2 separate regions of the Homo sapiens genome follow, and region 2 is linked to region 1. Evidence: fine-mapped expression QTL. Tissue or cell type: whole blood. Region 1 holds a variant in brackets; the other region holds the start of a gene. All regions are shown on one strand. Distances are between the middles of the regions.

What was found. PIP is the estimated chance that this variant, and not a neighbour inherited with it, causes the effect.
Region 2: it holds the start of LPGAT1, and the variant in region 1 is fine-mapped to the expression of LPGAT1 in whole blood (INTERVAL, PIP above 0.99). The same link has a PIP of 0.9 or more in monocytes.

Annotation. Positions count from the first base shown.
Region 1 is chr1:211,961,306-211,969,301 of GRCh38, forward strand. It overlaps INTS7 (integrator complex subunit 7), which reads right to left. Exons shown (of 20, transcript NM_015434.4): 14 at 7,208-7,402; 15 at 6,573-6,676; 16 at 5,125-5,193. Among named protein-coding and RNA genes, the nearest start is that of INTS7, 70 kb to the right of the region's middle. RefSeq lists enhancers at 6,729-7,229, 7,230-7,730. The variant TA/T (reference allele first, on the strand shown) is at 3,880.
Region 2 is chr1:211,826,340-211,834,335 of GRCh38, forward strand. It overlaps LPGAT1 (lysophosphatidylglycerol acyltransferase 1), which reads right to left and starts at 4,424. Exons shown (of 8, transcript NM_014873.3): 1 at 4,234-4,424; 2 at 2,720-2,984. The coding sequence starts at 2,957. It overlaps LPGAT1-AS1 (LPGAT1 antisense RNA 1), which reads left to right and starts at 4,622. Exons shown (of 6, transcript NR_135820.1): 1 at 4,622-4,701; 2 at 4,917-5,073. RefSeq lists a silencer at 3,849-4,608.

The DNA.
Region 1 (7,996 bases):
AAGAAAAAAAAAGGCAGCTAGAAAGGTCAGGCCACCTACAAAGGGAAGTCCATCAGACTTAACAGCAGACCCCTTTGAGCAGAAACCCTACAAGCCAGAAGAGACTGTGGGCCAATATTCAATTCTTTTTTTTTTTTTTCCTGAGATGGAGTCTTGGTCTGTTGCCCAGGCTGGAGTGCAGTGGCATGATCTTGGCTCACTGCAACCTCTGCCTCCCGGGTTCAAGAGATTCTCCTGCCTCAGCCTCCTGAGTAACTGGGATTACAGGCACGTGCCACCATGCCCGGCTAATTTTGTATTTTTAGTAGAGACGGGGTTTTACCATGTTGGCCAGGCTGGTCTCAAACTCTTGACCTCAAGTGACCCTCCCACCTCGGCCTCCCAAAGTGCTAGGATTACAGGTATGAGCCACCTTGCCCGGCCTCAACATTCTTAAAGAAAAGAAATTCCAACCAAGAAATTCATATCCGGCCAAACTAAGCTTCATGAGTGACAGAAAAATACTATCTTTTTCAGACAAGCAAATGCTGAGGGAATTTGTTATCACCAGACCTGCCTTATTAGAGCTCCTGAAGGAAGCACTAAATATAGAAAGGAAAGACCAGTCACTACAAAAACATACTTAAGTACACAGACCAGTGAGACACTATAAAGCAACCACACAAACAAGCCTGCATGATAACCAGCTGCTATCATGATGACAGGATCAAATCCATACATCAATACTAACCTTTAATGTAAATTGGCTAAATGCCCCAATTACAAGGCACAGATTGGCAAGGTGGATAAAGAACCAAAACTCAATGGTATGCCAAGAGTCTCATCTCACATGCAATTACATCCATAGGCTCAAAATAAAGAGATAGAGAAAAACCTAACAAGCAAATGAAAAATAGAAAAAAGCAGCAGTTGCAATCCTAAATCAGACAAAACAGACTTTAAACCAACAAAGATTAAAAAAAAAAAAAAAAAAAAAAGACAAGGGTATTACATAATGGTAAAAGGTTCAATTCAACAAGAAGACCTAACTATCCTAAATACATATGCACCCAACACAGGAGCACCCAGATTCATAAAGCAAGTGCTTAGAGACCTTCAAAGAGACTTAGACTCCCACACAATAATGGTGAGAGAATTCAACACTCCATGACAGTATTAGATCACTGAGGCAGAAAATTACAAAGATATTCAGGACTTAATCTCAGCACTGGATCAAATGGACCTGATAGACATCTACAGAACTCTCCACCCAAAAACAACAGAATATACATTGTTCTCATCATCATCTCATGGCACATACTCTAAAATCAGCCACACAGTTGGACACAAAACAATCTTCAGCAAATGAAAAAGAATGAAAATAATAACCACTTTCTTGGACCACAGCACAATAAAATTAGAAATCAAGACCAAGAAAATCGCTCAAAACCATACAATTACATGGAAATTAAACAACGTGCTCCTGAATGATTTTTTGGCAAGAAATGAAATTAAGGCAAAAATCAAGAAGTTCTTTGAAACTAATGAAAACAAAGAAACAACATACCAGAATCTCTGGAACACAGCTAGTGTTAAGAAGGAAATGTACAGCACTAAACACCTACATCAAAAAGTTAGAAAGACCTCAATTTACAAAGTAACATCACAACTAAAAGAACTAGAGAATGAAGAGCAAATCAACCCCAAAGCTAGAAGACAAGAAATAATCAAAATCAGAGCTGAATTGGAGACTGACACACAAAAAAAATTCAAAAGATCAACAAATCCAGGAGTTGGTGTTTTGAAAAAAAATTAGTATCTATTTGATAGACGGCTGGCTAGACTAATAAAGAGAGAAGATCCAAGTAAACACAATTAGAAACAACAAAGAAGATATTATCACTGACACCACAGAAATATGAACACCTCTATGGACACAAACTAGAAAATCTAGAAGGAATGGATAAATTCCTGAACATACACTCTCTCCCAAGACTGAACCAGGAAGAAACTGAATCCCTGATGAGACAAATAATGAGCTCTGAAATTGAATCAGTAATAAACAGCCTACCAACCAAAAAAAAAGCCCAGGACAAGATGGATTCACAGTCAAACTCTACCAGGTATACATAGAAGAGCTGGTACCAGTCCTACTGAAGCTTTTCCAAAAAAATTAAGGAGGAGGGACTCCTCCCTAACTCATCTACGAGGCCAGCATCACCCTGATACCAAAACCTGGTGGAGACACAACAACAAAAACCTCAGGCCAATATCCCTGATGAACATTGATGCAAAAATCCTCAAAAAATACTGGCAAACTGAACCCAGCAACAAATCAAAAAGCTTATCCACCACCATCAAGTAGGCTTTATCTCTGGGATGCAAGGTTGGTTCAACACATCCAAATCAATAAATGTGATTCATCACATAAATGGAACTAAAGCCAAAAACCACATGATCATCTCAATCAATGCAGAAAAGGCTTTTTGATAAAATTCCATATCCCATTATATTAAAAAAAAAACTCTGAATAAACTAGGAATTGAAGAAACATACCTCAAAATAATAAGAGTCACCTATGTCAAAACCACAGCCAACATCATACCAAATGGGCAAAAGCTGGAAGCATTCCCCCTGAAAACCGGCATAACAAAAGGATGCTCTCTCTCACCACTCCTATTCAACATAGTATTGGAAGTCCTGGCCAGAGCAATCAGGTGAGAGAATGAAATAAAGGGCATCCAAATAAGAAGAGAGGAAGTCCAACTATCCCTGTGTGCAGACATGATACTATATCTAGGAAAGCCAATAGTCTTGGCCCACAAGCTCCTTAAGCTGATAAACAACTTCGGCAAAGATCCAGGATACAAAATCAATATAAAAAATCACTAGTATTCCTATATACCAACAACAGTCGAGCTGAAAGCCAAATCAGGAATGCATTCCCATTCATGACTGTCACAAAAAGAATAAAATACCTAGGAATACAGCTAACTGGGGAGATGAAAGCAAAACACTGCTCAACGAAATCAAAGATAACACAAACAAACGGAAAAACATTCCATGCTCATGAATAGGAGAAATCAATATTGTTAAAATGGCCATACTGCCCAAAGCAACGTATAGATTCAATGCTATTCCTATCAAACTGCCAACGACATTCTTCGCAGAATTAGAAGAAACTATTTTAAAATTCATATGGAACCAAAAAGAGCCCAAACAGCCAAGGCAATCCTAAGCAAAAAGAGCAAAGCTGGAGGCATCAGGCTACCCAACTTCAAACTATACTACAAGTCTACAGTAACCTAAACAGCATGGTACTGGTATACAAAAAGACACACAGACCAATGGAATAGAATAGAGAGCCCAGAAACAAGGCCACACACTCCTACAACCATCTGATCTTTGACAAAGCTGACAAAAACAAGCAATAGGGAAAGGATTTCCTGTTCAATAGATGGTGCTGGGATAACCGATGTCATATGCAGAAGATGGAAACTGGACCCCTTCCTTACACCACAGACAAAAATCAACTCAAGATGGATTAAAGACTTAAATGTAAAACCCAAAATGATAGAACCCTGGAAGACAACCTTCAGGACTAGGCATGGGCAAGGATTTCATGACAAAGATGCCAAAAGCAATTGCAACAAAAGCAAAAATTGACAAATGGGATCTAATAAAACTAAAGAGCTTCTGCACAACAAAAGAAACTATCCACAGATTAAACAAACAACCTACAGAATGGGAGAAAATTTTTCTAACTATGCATCTGACAAAGTTCTAATATCAAGCATCTATAAGGAACTTGAATTATTTACAAGAAAAAAACAAGCCCATTAAAAAGTGGGCAAAGGACATGAACACTTTTCAAAGACATACACATGGCCAACAAGCACA[TA/T]AAAAAAAAAAAACTCAACATCGCTGATCATTAGAGAAATGCAAATCAAAACCACAATGAGATACCATCTCACACCAGTCAGAATGGCTATTATTACATCATCAAAAAATAACAGAAGTTGGTGAGGTTGCAGAGAAAAGGGAACCCTTATACACTGTTGGCGGGAGTGTAAATTAGTTCAACCATCGTGGAAAGCACTGTGGTGATTCCTCAAAAAGCTAAAAACAGAATTACCATTCGGCCAAGAAATCCCATAACTGTGTATATACCCAAAGGAATAGAAATCATTCTATCATAAAGACACAGGCACACATATGTTCACTGCAGCACTACTCACAATAGCAAACACATGGAATTAACCTAAATGCCCATCGATGGCAGACCAGATAAAGAAAATGTGGTACATATGCATCATGAAATACTACGCAGCCATAAAAAAGAAGATCATGTCCTTGGCAGGAAGATGGATGGAGCTGGAAGCTATTATCCTCAGCAAACTAACGCAGGAACAGAAAACCAAATACCACACGTTCTCACTTAGAAGTGGGAGATAAATGATAACATATGGAAACATAGAGGGGAACACCACACACTGGGGCCTACCTGAGGGTGGAAGGTGGGAGGAAAAAGAGGACCAGAAAAATAACTATTGGGTACTAAGCCTAAAATCTGGTCAATGAAATCATTTGTACAACAAACCCCGGTGACACGAGTTTACCTATATAACAAACCTGCACATGTAACACTGAACTTAAAAGTTAAAAAAGAAAGAAAATGTATATTCCAAAAGAGAATACTATAATAGGAAAAGAAAAAGGAATCATTCTTTAATGAAAACAACTATTTTGAATAATTAATTAGTTATTGGGGGAGGGGAAAAATTTAAAAGAGCAAAACCAGGGATATTTTGGTTTAAGAAGCCAAAGGAAAAAAATCTCAAGTTCAAGTTTAATTGTATCATTAACTCAATTTTTCGTAGTATAATTATAATATACAAGAAGAAATTGCTCATATTCAAAGAATGTCTTCCCAGTTATCTTTCCATGTTAACTTTTTGAAAACAGGAGGCAGGAGGTAAATCTATGTTTTGTCACTAGTTATGTGACCCACAAAAAATGCTGAAGAATTCTTCCACTTTGTTTTTACTTCCATAGTACTAGCTCCAAAATAGTCTTCTGATGATTAGGTAAGACAATGTATAGAAAGTGTTCTGTAACGCCAACTATTATTAATATTAGAATTACCTTGCTGATTCTGGATCCAAAATCAGGGCTTCTATTGCATGAGATATCAGTAAACAGCTCTGCTGCTGTCTGGATTGATGTTAAGGTTACATACGAAAATAGAGAAGAAACCCGCTATAGGTTTCTATTACTTGAATACTAAATTGGTCAAGATTTAATGATTGCCTAGTGAAGGTAATCATAATGTTATCAACTCGAATGGTCTGGGGCTCTACCTTTTCTTTTTAAGGGATATACATTGTCTATAATAGTGATCCTCAGACTCTGTTCCAAGAAGGGTACTTCGGAGGCTACTACTGTGGGAAGGGGAAATCAAGTGATAGGCCCCGTGATTCAATTACAGCAAGTCTGTTTTTATCTGTCTTAGATATAGGGGTTTTTCATAAGAGTTTGAGACAAACAAGCAAATAAAGCTTTCACTGATAAAAGTTAAAAAAAAAATAGAAACAAAAACAAAACACAGTGGTCTAAGGAGCCTTTATCCCAGAGGTTCCTAATCTAGTGCTCAAGAGGTCTGGCAACTCCCTGAACTTACATGCACATTTTGGGTGTCTCTGTATATATGCATTTTGTAGGGCAGAGGGCCCATAGCATTCACTGGGTTTCAATCAGTAAACTAAATGCCAAGAACTACTGATTGGAAAGTCCTACAACTTAAAAAAAGAATTTCTATTCCTTCCTTTCAAAAGTGATTTGAAGTTGCTAATAAGAAAATATGGAGAACTTAGGAAGGGTTTAAAAGTGACGACCAGGCTGGGCACGGTGGCTCACGTGTATAATCCCAGCACTTTTAGGTAGATCACTTGAGGCCAGGAGTTTGAGACCAGCCTGGCCAACATGGTGAAACCCCGTCTCTACTAAAAATATAAAAATTAGCCAGGTTGTGGTGGCACACACCTGTAATCCCAGCTACTAGGGAGGCTGGGGCAGGAGAATCGCTTGAACCCAGGAGGCAGAGGTTGCAGTGAGCCAAGATCATGCCACTGCACTCCAGCCTGGGCAACAGAGTGAGACTCCATCTCAAAAAAAAAAAAAAAAAAAAAGTGACAACTAATGCTACTGAAGAGATCATTAATAAAGGTGATAAAAACTAGGACTGTTGGCCACAAAGAAAGGTGAGGTGAAATACATGTTCTTTGGTGGGAAAATGTGTTGTGTTGTCTGTTGTAGCTCAAGTGAGCACAGGTAAGCAACACTGGCTTTGGATGTTGCTTTGGATGCTCTTTCTGGATATAAAAAAGACACCTTCGAGTCACCATTTTTTGTTAAAATCCTGGGTAAAGTTAAAAAGTAAGATTATTCTGCTTATATATTTTAAAGGGGAAACTATATAATAAATTTATAGGGTTATTTAACATGTATTTTGTAGGTAAGCATATCTGAGGTAGTCCGTATTTAAAAGAATACTTCCAAAAAGAACAAGAAGTACTAGGGCAAGCTTGGGATACAGTTCAACATTCCTCAAAGTTGCTGAGTCAGCATCAAAAGATGCCTGGTAAAGATCTCCATATCGAGAAGCAAGGCTTCGAAATTCTTCCATGGACTGTTTCATCTATAAAAAAAAATCAATTATGACAAACAAACATGCTATCATTATTGTATAAACAACACAAAAACCAAAACAAAAAAAAGCACCTTCAAACAATAACAATTCAAAAAAAATACTGCCATCTTTTCACTGTCATTCCATTCATTTTCATAAACTTTGTTAAATAAAAACAAAAATGGCAAATGAAACTATACATGTTCACAAGATTATTATATATGACATATAGAAACAAAAACATTTGTATTTTAGCGTCTTCAAGTTCCACTAAAATAATTTAGTTATAAACATTCTCAAGTTTTTAAAAAAATCTGTCCTTTCTCTTTATATAAATATGTAGCACCCATTGAGATAACATGAATCACTTTATCTTTCTAATAACACATCAGCCTATTTTTTAGCCAGACAGTTGAGTGAATAAACATTTATGATAATGTCTGAGTCAAACCACTGATTTTATATTTTACAACTTTTCATCTTATAACTTCGAAAACCTCTAAAGTGTAAATAAAAAATGCACTGAAAGTTAAGACATGCCTGATTGGAGATGCGACCACACCTCTGGAGGTCATTTCCTAAGGTCATGGCAATTGTTGTGGCAATTGCAGGTGGTGGGCTTGTCTTCAGGCTATTACAAGTACAGATAAGTTGAGAGAAGGCTTGTAAAAGGTCAATCCTGAGTTTTACAAATTCACACTGAAAGCTTAAAGGATTCAGTGGTGTACTAGCTGCCTGGGAAAAAAAAAAAAAAGAGATATTTAAGACAAAGTAAACAGAACAGTGAGATGGGGCAGTACCAAGTATTTATCAGTTTGTGGTCAAGTGCAGTAGTTCTCTAAAAACACTGACGGATAAAGACCTAAATGATAAAAAGAATAATGTAATATTAGAATGAAAAATATTGTTATTAAACACCAGCTCTGAAAAACTGTATGTACAACCACTATTCAAAGGTTCCTTACTGCCTACATTCACAAAGACCCCATAATATGTGAATTGTCAAGAACATCATCAAGAAGATAATCACGGCCAGGTGCGGTGGCTCACGCCTGTAATCCCAGCACTTCGGGAGGTCGAGGCGGGTGGATCACAAGGTCAGGAGATCAAGACCACCCTGGCTAACATGGTGAAACCCCGTCTCTATTAAAAATACAAAAAAATTAGCTGGGCGTTGTGGCGGGTGCCTGTAGTCCCAGCTACTCGGGAGGCTGAGGCAGGAGAATGGCGTGAACCCGGGAGGCGGAGTCTGCTGTGAGCCGAGATTGCACCACTGCACTCCAGCCTGGGCGATAGAACGAGACTGTCTCAAAAAAAAAAACAAAGAAA
Region 2 (7,996 bases), 130 kb before region 1:
AATTTAGTTTTCCTAAGAAAAGAAAACCATGCTTACTATATCAGCTTTGTCCAGTAGTACTTGCTGTGATGATAGAAGTGTTCTGTATCTGCACTGTCCATACAGTAGCCACTAGCCACCTAGTACTGAGCACTTGAAATGTGGTTGGTGTGCCTGAGGAGCTAAATGCTAAATTTTATTTCATTTTAATTAATTTAAATTTAAACAGTGACATGCAGCCAGTGGCTACTATATGGGGCTGTGTAGGTTAGATAATCAACATAAGTCCTCATCAGCAGAGCTGAGTAATTCACTCATATTACACGGAATGTCATAATTTGGAAAAAGATATATATATATATATATATTCATTCTATACCAATATACCAATATTCAATTTTTAGCTTCCTAATTAGTATTTAAGGTTTCCTCATAAGTGGTTTCTCAACAAAGTTTTGGCAATTTTTATTCTAAAACATGAACATACTTAATCTGCTGAGCAGAATTCCTTTGGCAATGTTCAATTTTCCATCTGTGAAACTTGGGCATAGGGAAAAAAGAACTTCTTCACAAGCCCACCCTCCTATTGATGTAAAGGGAAGAAGTGAAATATATTATCTAAAGAAAGGCTAATATAACACCTGACATTATTTTATGGGTACACCTGTTCATCAACCTCTGCTTAGATGTGCTTCTTTAAACTCAGCTGAGGCTTTCAACCAAATTCATTCCTACATTTGTTTGACTTCTTGACTATTTTCTTTTATGATCAGACTATGACCAGGCTCTCTGAAATCAAGTATTCTACCTATAGGAAAACCTTTTAAAATATATACATTAAAACAGTCTATATTTAAATGAGACAAACTGATCAAATTGTCAAAATTCAGTAGCCTGAAGAAGAGCAGATGCTTCAGAGAGACTAAAATATGCAGATCATGCCAAGACCACATTCCAAGCAGGTGGCAAAAGAAATTACACAGTTCTATAGTCAGCAAGGAAGAGATACCCCAAGAAAATATGCTGAAAAATACATTGCAGCTATGCTATGGCCATAGGACAACTAACTTTGACTTCAAGCAGCACCACTGCACTCCCAATCTCAAGGTCAATGCCAAATTAATTTTACCTTCCCACCATGCTAACAATTAAATACACTATACACACGCACAAACATTTCAGTAATTTCATTTTAAGCAGAATGAACTTCTAGAACGGGTTTCTGAAAATACTATAAGCTAATTTAAAACAAGCAAACTTAAGTATACTATACAAGAATAAAGCCACTAGTACCATATAACATATATTTGGGAACACTCAAACTATACCAAGCCAAGCAACTCTAAGACAGCAGTGCAATTCAGGTAAGAATTCAGCACCATAGATTAGAACTTCGTTTTTTCTCTACCACTGCTATTGCTACCACCAAGTCCTAAAAAAGGGCTAGAAGCACACCTACTATATCCAAAAAGCATTGGAATCTCAACAAGACAGATGACAAGGAAGCAACGCATACACTATCCCAGGGGCTTCAGCTCTTGCATTATTATGCCACTGCCTGAAGGAGAAATAAATAAATAAATGCCACTGCCTGAAGGAGAAAAGGCTTCATCTGGGGCAACTGAGAATACTCAGACATAGCAAGGGTCTGTCAGACTCCATAAAAGCTGTATACTATCAGTCCTTCTCTTGCGTGTGTGGATAAAATGTGCAGGTGCAGCCTAGGCAGGAAAGAGGGAGACAGAATTTCAGATGGAGAACTGCCATACTGCTTGACCCTGGGAGTACCCCTCCTCACTCTGCCAAGCTATGAACTACAGCCTCTACTGACCACAGCATCTGCATGATCTTCAAGGAGCCTGCCTATCAGGTAGGAATTTCTGTGCTAAAAGCCTCCACATCTGACAAGTGCTAAAAACCTCTATGATTTTTTCATTATCTTAATTCTTAAGGGAAAAAAATCAAATAAATACAATAAACGATACAGAATTTTCACAGCAAGGGCATAAGTTCTCAAAGCATATAAGGTTTATCTCAGAAAATAAACACTTCTCATTTAGTTCTATAAAAGTCCACTTCTGAATAGTGTTACTCTTGCTTCCCCAAATGCAATTTAAAGGCAGAAATCACAATCTATTTAAAGACACTCAGAAGATAAATTAGCTTAACAAAGTTAACTTAATTTTTTATATTTAATACTCTCAGATTTATGAGATAAAATATAGATTCTAATAAACAAAAGAAACATACGTAAGAGAAAAGAAAGCCATTTTTGCTTGCTCAAAAGGCTAACAGTACAATATCACGTTAAATGATGAAGAAACTTATTAAACTATCTTAGCACAAATATGGTCCCATTCTTTTTCTAAATTTCCAATGTTTATGGGCATCTTCCATGAAATAGATGAAATATCTTACATCTTCACTTTATAAGCTCTCGAGTCCTATACAACGCACTCCTATTCCTCTACCAGAGCTTTTGCAGACCAGTTTTAATAAATGTATGTCAATCACAATAAAAACACTAAGAAATTTACCAATACATAATTATGAAATTATACTTCTGAAAACATTGGTCTTCCTGAGATTCTGAAGAGAAACCCAATAGAACTGTTTTCTTTTTATTTTTTTCAATAGTGAAGACATGAAAGCATCCTCAACCCAAAGTGTAATATACATTTAATCATGGTTCCTGACAAATTTTTTCTTATGCATTAAAGAAAAGTGTTCTCACTCTTACCTGTATATCCAGCATACCATCCCCAGGAAGCTACCATTCCTAAAAGCCATTTATACATGATTCCTTCGATATACCAGAACCGCTTACTGTCCAGCACTCGAAGGGGCTGAAGTATAATTACATAGCAGATGTAGGATGGAATAGCAACCAGGTTGTTGACGACCATGAAGGCAAACCTCATCAGTGCTTTCACCAAGAGCCAGCCCAGCCACGGAGCTTCTTCCAAAGTTATAGCCATTCTCACACTGGACTCCGTCCTGTCTTTCTGGGGTGAAAGAAAAATTCACTTAAAAAGGAAAATTCATTAAATACATCTAAACAGTCACCAACATAGAAATCGCCCCCAGCACAAAATAAAACAGCGAGGGTCGAAGCTTTCCGGGTGTAGTACCTCGGTGATCTCTCAGGGGAAATTCCAGAGGGGGACAGAGAGCGAGGGAGGAGGAGCCGCACAAGGTCAAGGGAGCTGTTCACCGAGGCACGAAGTATGTCACAATATATTTAGCAAATGATAACACAATTCCCATTCAGTAATCGGTGGCCGTCCCCGCACCGTGTCTCACTGCGGTCGTCTATTGGACTTAGAAAAATAGATCCACTCGCTTCAGACAACCTCAGGATCTCCAAACTGAAGACACAAGTGACATGACCGAAACAGGGTCCCCTCAATAAGATTTCCCAGATACTGAGGACCTCAGTCTCCTCACCACCACGATTCCTGCACACCGATGCATTCCTTTAAAAGGTCTCTGGCTCTAGCGAAGAGTTACCCTCAAAATTCTCATTTGTAGCAATAGGGTTTTTGTTTCCCTTTTTTTTTTAAGAAAAAAAATGGGGGGCCTAGAAAAAAAGCTTACAAGGTGAGAGGAAGAAAGTAGGGGGTTATAATGCGAAAAAGAGGAAGGACAGGAGTAGGGGGAAGGGAGCAAAAGCCAGAAAGAGGTAAAAGCCAAGGAACTGGGGATGAAGAGAATGAGATTTCCGACCAGAGGGCAAGGAAGCAGGGGATGATGAAAGGGGCAGAGAAGAGGCGACCGCAGCGCGGGGAGCCGGTGGAGCCTGCAGCGGTTTCCGCGGATGTGGAAGGGTCGTGGCGGCGGGCGCGGCCCGCGCGCCGGGCTCACCTCGGCGGGCGCGGACGGCGGGCGGCTGCGGAGAGCGGGGGCGGGTGTCCCCCGCCGAGGGGTCGCGGTCATGGACGCGGTGGCGGCCCAAGCGGCCCGAGGCGCTGCGCGAGCGGGCGCGCTGGCGCCCTACTCCCCTCGCGGCTGCCTGCGGACAGAGGGACGGCGGGGACTCAGAGGCCGGACCTGTCACCCGGGCGGGTCCCGGGGAGGCGGGCGGATGCCCCGCGCCCCCGCCTCCTCCCCGGGGCCTACCGCGCCCTCGTCCCTCAGGCCGCTGCCGCCTCCCCGGGCCACGCGACGACGACACCCCCTTCCCCGCCCCCAGCGCCTCCCCTGGCCCGGCTCCGCTGCCGCTCTGGGGCCTGCGACCGCGGAGCCGGAGGTTACCTCGGGCTGGCCGGGCCCCAGCCGGGGCTTTGGGAGTCAGAGGAGCCGGAAGAATGCATGGCCGGCGGCGGGGCCGGCGGAAGAAGGCGGTGGCGGGGCCCTGCCCCGCTCCGGCTGTGGCGCGGCCCGCGCCCGTTCCCCGGCGGCGCCGAGACTCGGTCCCCAAGGGCCCGGCCGCGTTCGCCCGGACTGGCGGGGAGGGGCGGCGGGAGGAAGCGGCGGGAGTCGGGACTGCGGCGGAGCCGCTCCCACAGCGCCCTCTAATGAAAGCGCCGCCGCCGCTGCCTGGCCCGCTTGCCCCGCCTGGCCCGCTCCCCCTACCCCTGCGCCAGCGAGTCGGGGCCCTCGGGGCTACCTGGACGCTCGGCCAGGACCTCAGTGAGTCCAGAACATACTGAGGGAAAGGGCCGCTCGGAAAGATCTAGGAATGAACACCCATCCTCACACCCCAGGAGTGCCTTGGTTTCAGTTGAGAGCCCCCTTTCAGCCAACACGGCCGCCTTTCATTGTTAGGGCTCTCTTCTCTGCCCAAACTAGGAACCTGTCTCCTTGACGGCTAAATGTCCACTTTTCATTCTTAATGAAACCCGGTTGCACTCATGGCTTTTCTTCTTAACCTCTGCAGTGTATTATTGTCTAGAGTTTCAAATTCATTCTTTTTACGGTCAAAAGTCTTGTTTCAGGAAAGCAGCTGGAACATTAATGGCAATTCCACTTTCCCATTCATCGCCCCCGCCCCCACCACCCCACCAAGAAACTCAGTGGGAATGAATGGTCTACACAGAGAAACTGAAATCTGGTTAGTCAAGAAGGAAAAAACAACCAAGTGCCTGGCATTAAGTAAGTACTCACCCGCCCGCCCTCCCCCGCCCGCCATAAAAAGAAAAACCGAAAAGACAAAAAACAGTGGCCATGGGAACTCCTAGACAGACCCCGTCACTTGGGATACTATAGCTGCATTCTGGTTCAAAGGCTGGACCACCTGAAGGAAAATAGAGAAATAGTCCATTGACCTACCCCCTTGAGCATTCTTAAATGATCTGCCTAAATTTTAGTTTTTAAAAATCCTGTTTATAAAACCTTATGTCCCTTAAGCACATTTGTAAATGGAGGGGATGGGGCAGGGCAGATTTCACACTCCCTAGGGAACTGCCATATTTGAATCAGAATGCCACCTATTCTGCCTATTTTGAAAATGTTCATCACAGCGTTTGCTCTGGACTCTCAACTTTCTCTAATTTCAGTTCCTCTTAGGTCCACAGGTGAAGGAAAGATATGCCCCATTCTATTCCTTGCATTCTCTCTTTATTGACAAGGTAGTAAGATCTTTAAATAAATCTCATGAGAGAGATAATATATATACTTTATTATTCAAAATATGTCATTATATTCTTCAGTAAGATAGGTGAGGTACATATTTATTTCCACAATCAAGAATAAACTCTAAGGATTCCATCTGGTCCATGCAATTCAGCTTTCCCACATGCTGCGTAAACGTTGGCTGACACCTGGAGAGAGATAACCTACAATGGGATTTACACGTGATTCCTGGATCAGGGACCATCTGCCAGAGGACCAGACACAGCAGCACTTGATGAAATGCAATTAGTACCAGGCCCAGAATTCATTTTCAGGCTCAGAAAAGAGCCAGAGGTTGGGCAGGACCTCTGGCTCTTTAGTGTACAAAAACAACACTTGAAGTGTCTACCAAAGAGACAGATTCTTCAGCATCATACCAGAACATTTTAATAATCTAGGTCCAGTGGACCTGAGAACCTGCTTTTTAAAAAGCGTCATAGGTGATTCTGATGCAAGTAGTATGCAGACCTTGCTTTAAGAAACCCTGACTTAGAGGTATTCTGAGATGATCACATTCTCTTCTAGACCCTTCATAATTTTAAATCATTTGATCATATGTGTTCTCATGTGTGTTAGTCAGCTAGAGCTGCCATAACAAAATACTGCAAACTGGGTGGCTTAAACAACAGAAACTTATTTTCTCGAAGTTCTGAAGGCCAAGATCAGAGATCAAAGTGTGGGGAGGTCTGGTTTCTTCTGAGGCCTGTCCCCTCGGCTTGCTGATCACCATCTCTCATTGCAGAATTCTGCCATTTCAGTACCTCCTTATGGAAGGAGTAGGGAATACCTAATCTCCTTGATCTTTTCAGATATCCTCATATTAACTGCTTCCAACCTCATTGGACTTTTCTTGAAACTCAACCAACAGTACAACACATTATGTTCCAGGTATAGATATGCCCTGGTTTTGTGCCAAGAGTGTAGGAGAGGGGTTATCTTCTTAACTTTCTGACCACAATATCAGTTTCAAGATAATTCAGCTGCTATAATAGATAAGAAACTGTTAGGGCTGACTTCTTAAGGGAACAATTTCAGATGATGCTTGTGTTTATTTCTTGCATTTCGAAGTTCGTTTTAGTTAGTTTTACCTTCCTCTTGCCTATACTACAATTTTTTTGCCCTGCCTCCTTTCAACCACTTAGGAAGCCTCCTGAGATTGTTCCATAGCCTATTTTATTGCACCATGGACAGAGAGATGTATGAATGCTCTGAATGACTGTAACAGGAAGATTGGAACAGCCAGTTCTCCAGGGTAGACTGTTCTGTGGAAAACAAGGATCTTCTTCAATGACTAGTTAGCTTCTAGTCCCCTATCCTGCTACCTTAGAGCCATCTTTATCAAAACACAAACATGAAGCCAACAATTTCAACACCTTCATGTACACTCCAATAGAGAAAAGAGGGAAATGAACAGACCCCACCCTATAGCCACAGACATTATTGTTTCTGTTTCAAAAGCCCACATTTGAACCACAAGAGAATGGTCCTTTGAAAAAGAAAGAGGATTTCTTACATTTCTTGGAATCGCCAGTCATTTGAAAGCAATATAACCACAATACCTTAGAAGGTTGAATTCCACCCATCTAGTCCACATACACACAACAAATTAGGTTATAACCAGGGAGAGGTTCCCTTGGGCAGAAGAGTACCCCCTGGGCCCTCTCTTTTTCCTAGTGGCAATTATAAAAACATTTTACCTACCTGTGTTGGTTTCTGCACTAAAGCTCCAGTGAACTATTTCCTGTCTAGGGAGAAACCCTACCAGCAATAACCTTCAATGACTTGGCACAGGCCCCCTACATTGCTAGGAAACAGTTGCAGGCTTGAAATCAGCAGCCCAAAAGAGTCATGCATTCTGACTGTTGTCAGCTTTAACTTCAAACAAAAAATGGAAATATATATGGATGTTCTCTTCTATATTCATGTCAATAATTATTTTATATAAAATGCTCCAGGGCTTATAACCTTAAAATTTTTCAGATAGGGTGAGCCAAATCATCCACACTTGGCTGAGTGTGGTGGCTCACACCTGTAATCCCAACACGTTGGGAGGCTGAGTCAGGCAGATCACTTGAGGTCAGGAGTTTGAGACCAGCCTGGCCAACATGACGAAAACCTGCCTCTACTAAAAATACAAAAATTAGCCGAGCGTTATGGCACCCGCCTGTAATCCCAGCTACTCGGGAGGTTGAGGCACGAGAATTGCTTGAACCTGGGAGACAGAGGTTGCAGTAAGCCTAGATCATGCCACTGTACTTTAGCCTGGGCGACAGAGCAAGACTCTGTCTCAAAGAAAAAAAAAATCCTCCAGACTTGACTGCAACTCTCAGCCATTTCAGCAATTCTTTTTATTAACATGATTGACCCTAAACAATACTATAAAGTAAACAATTGTGTCTCCTCC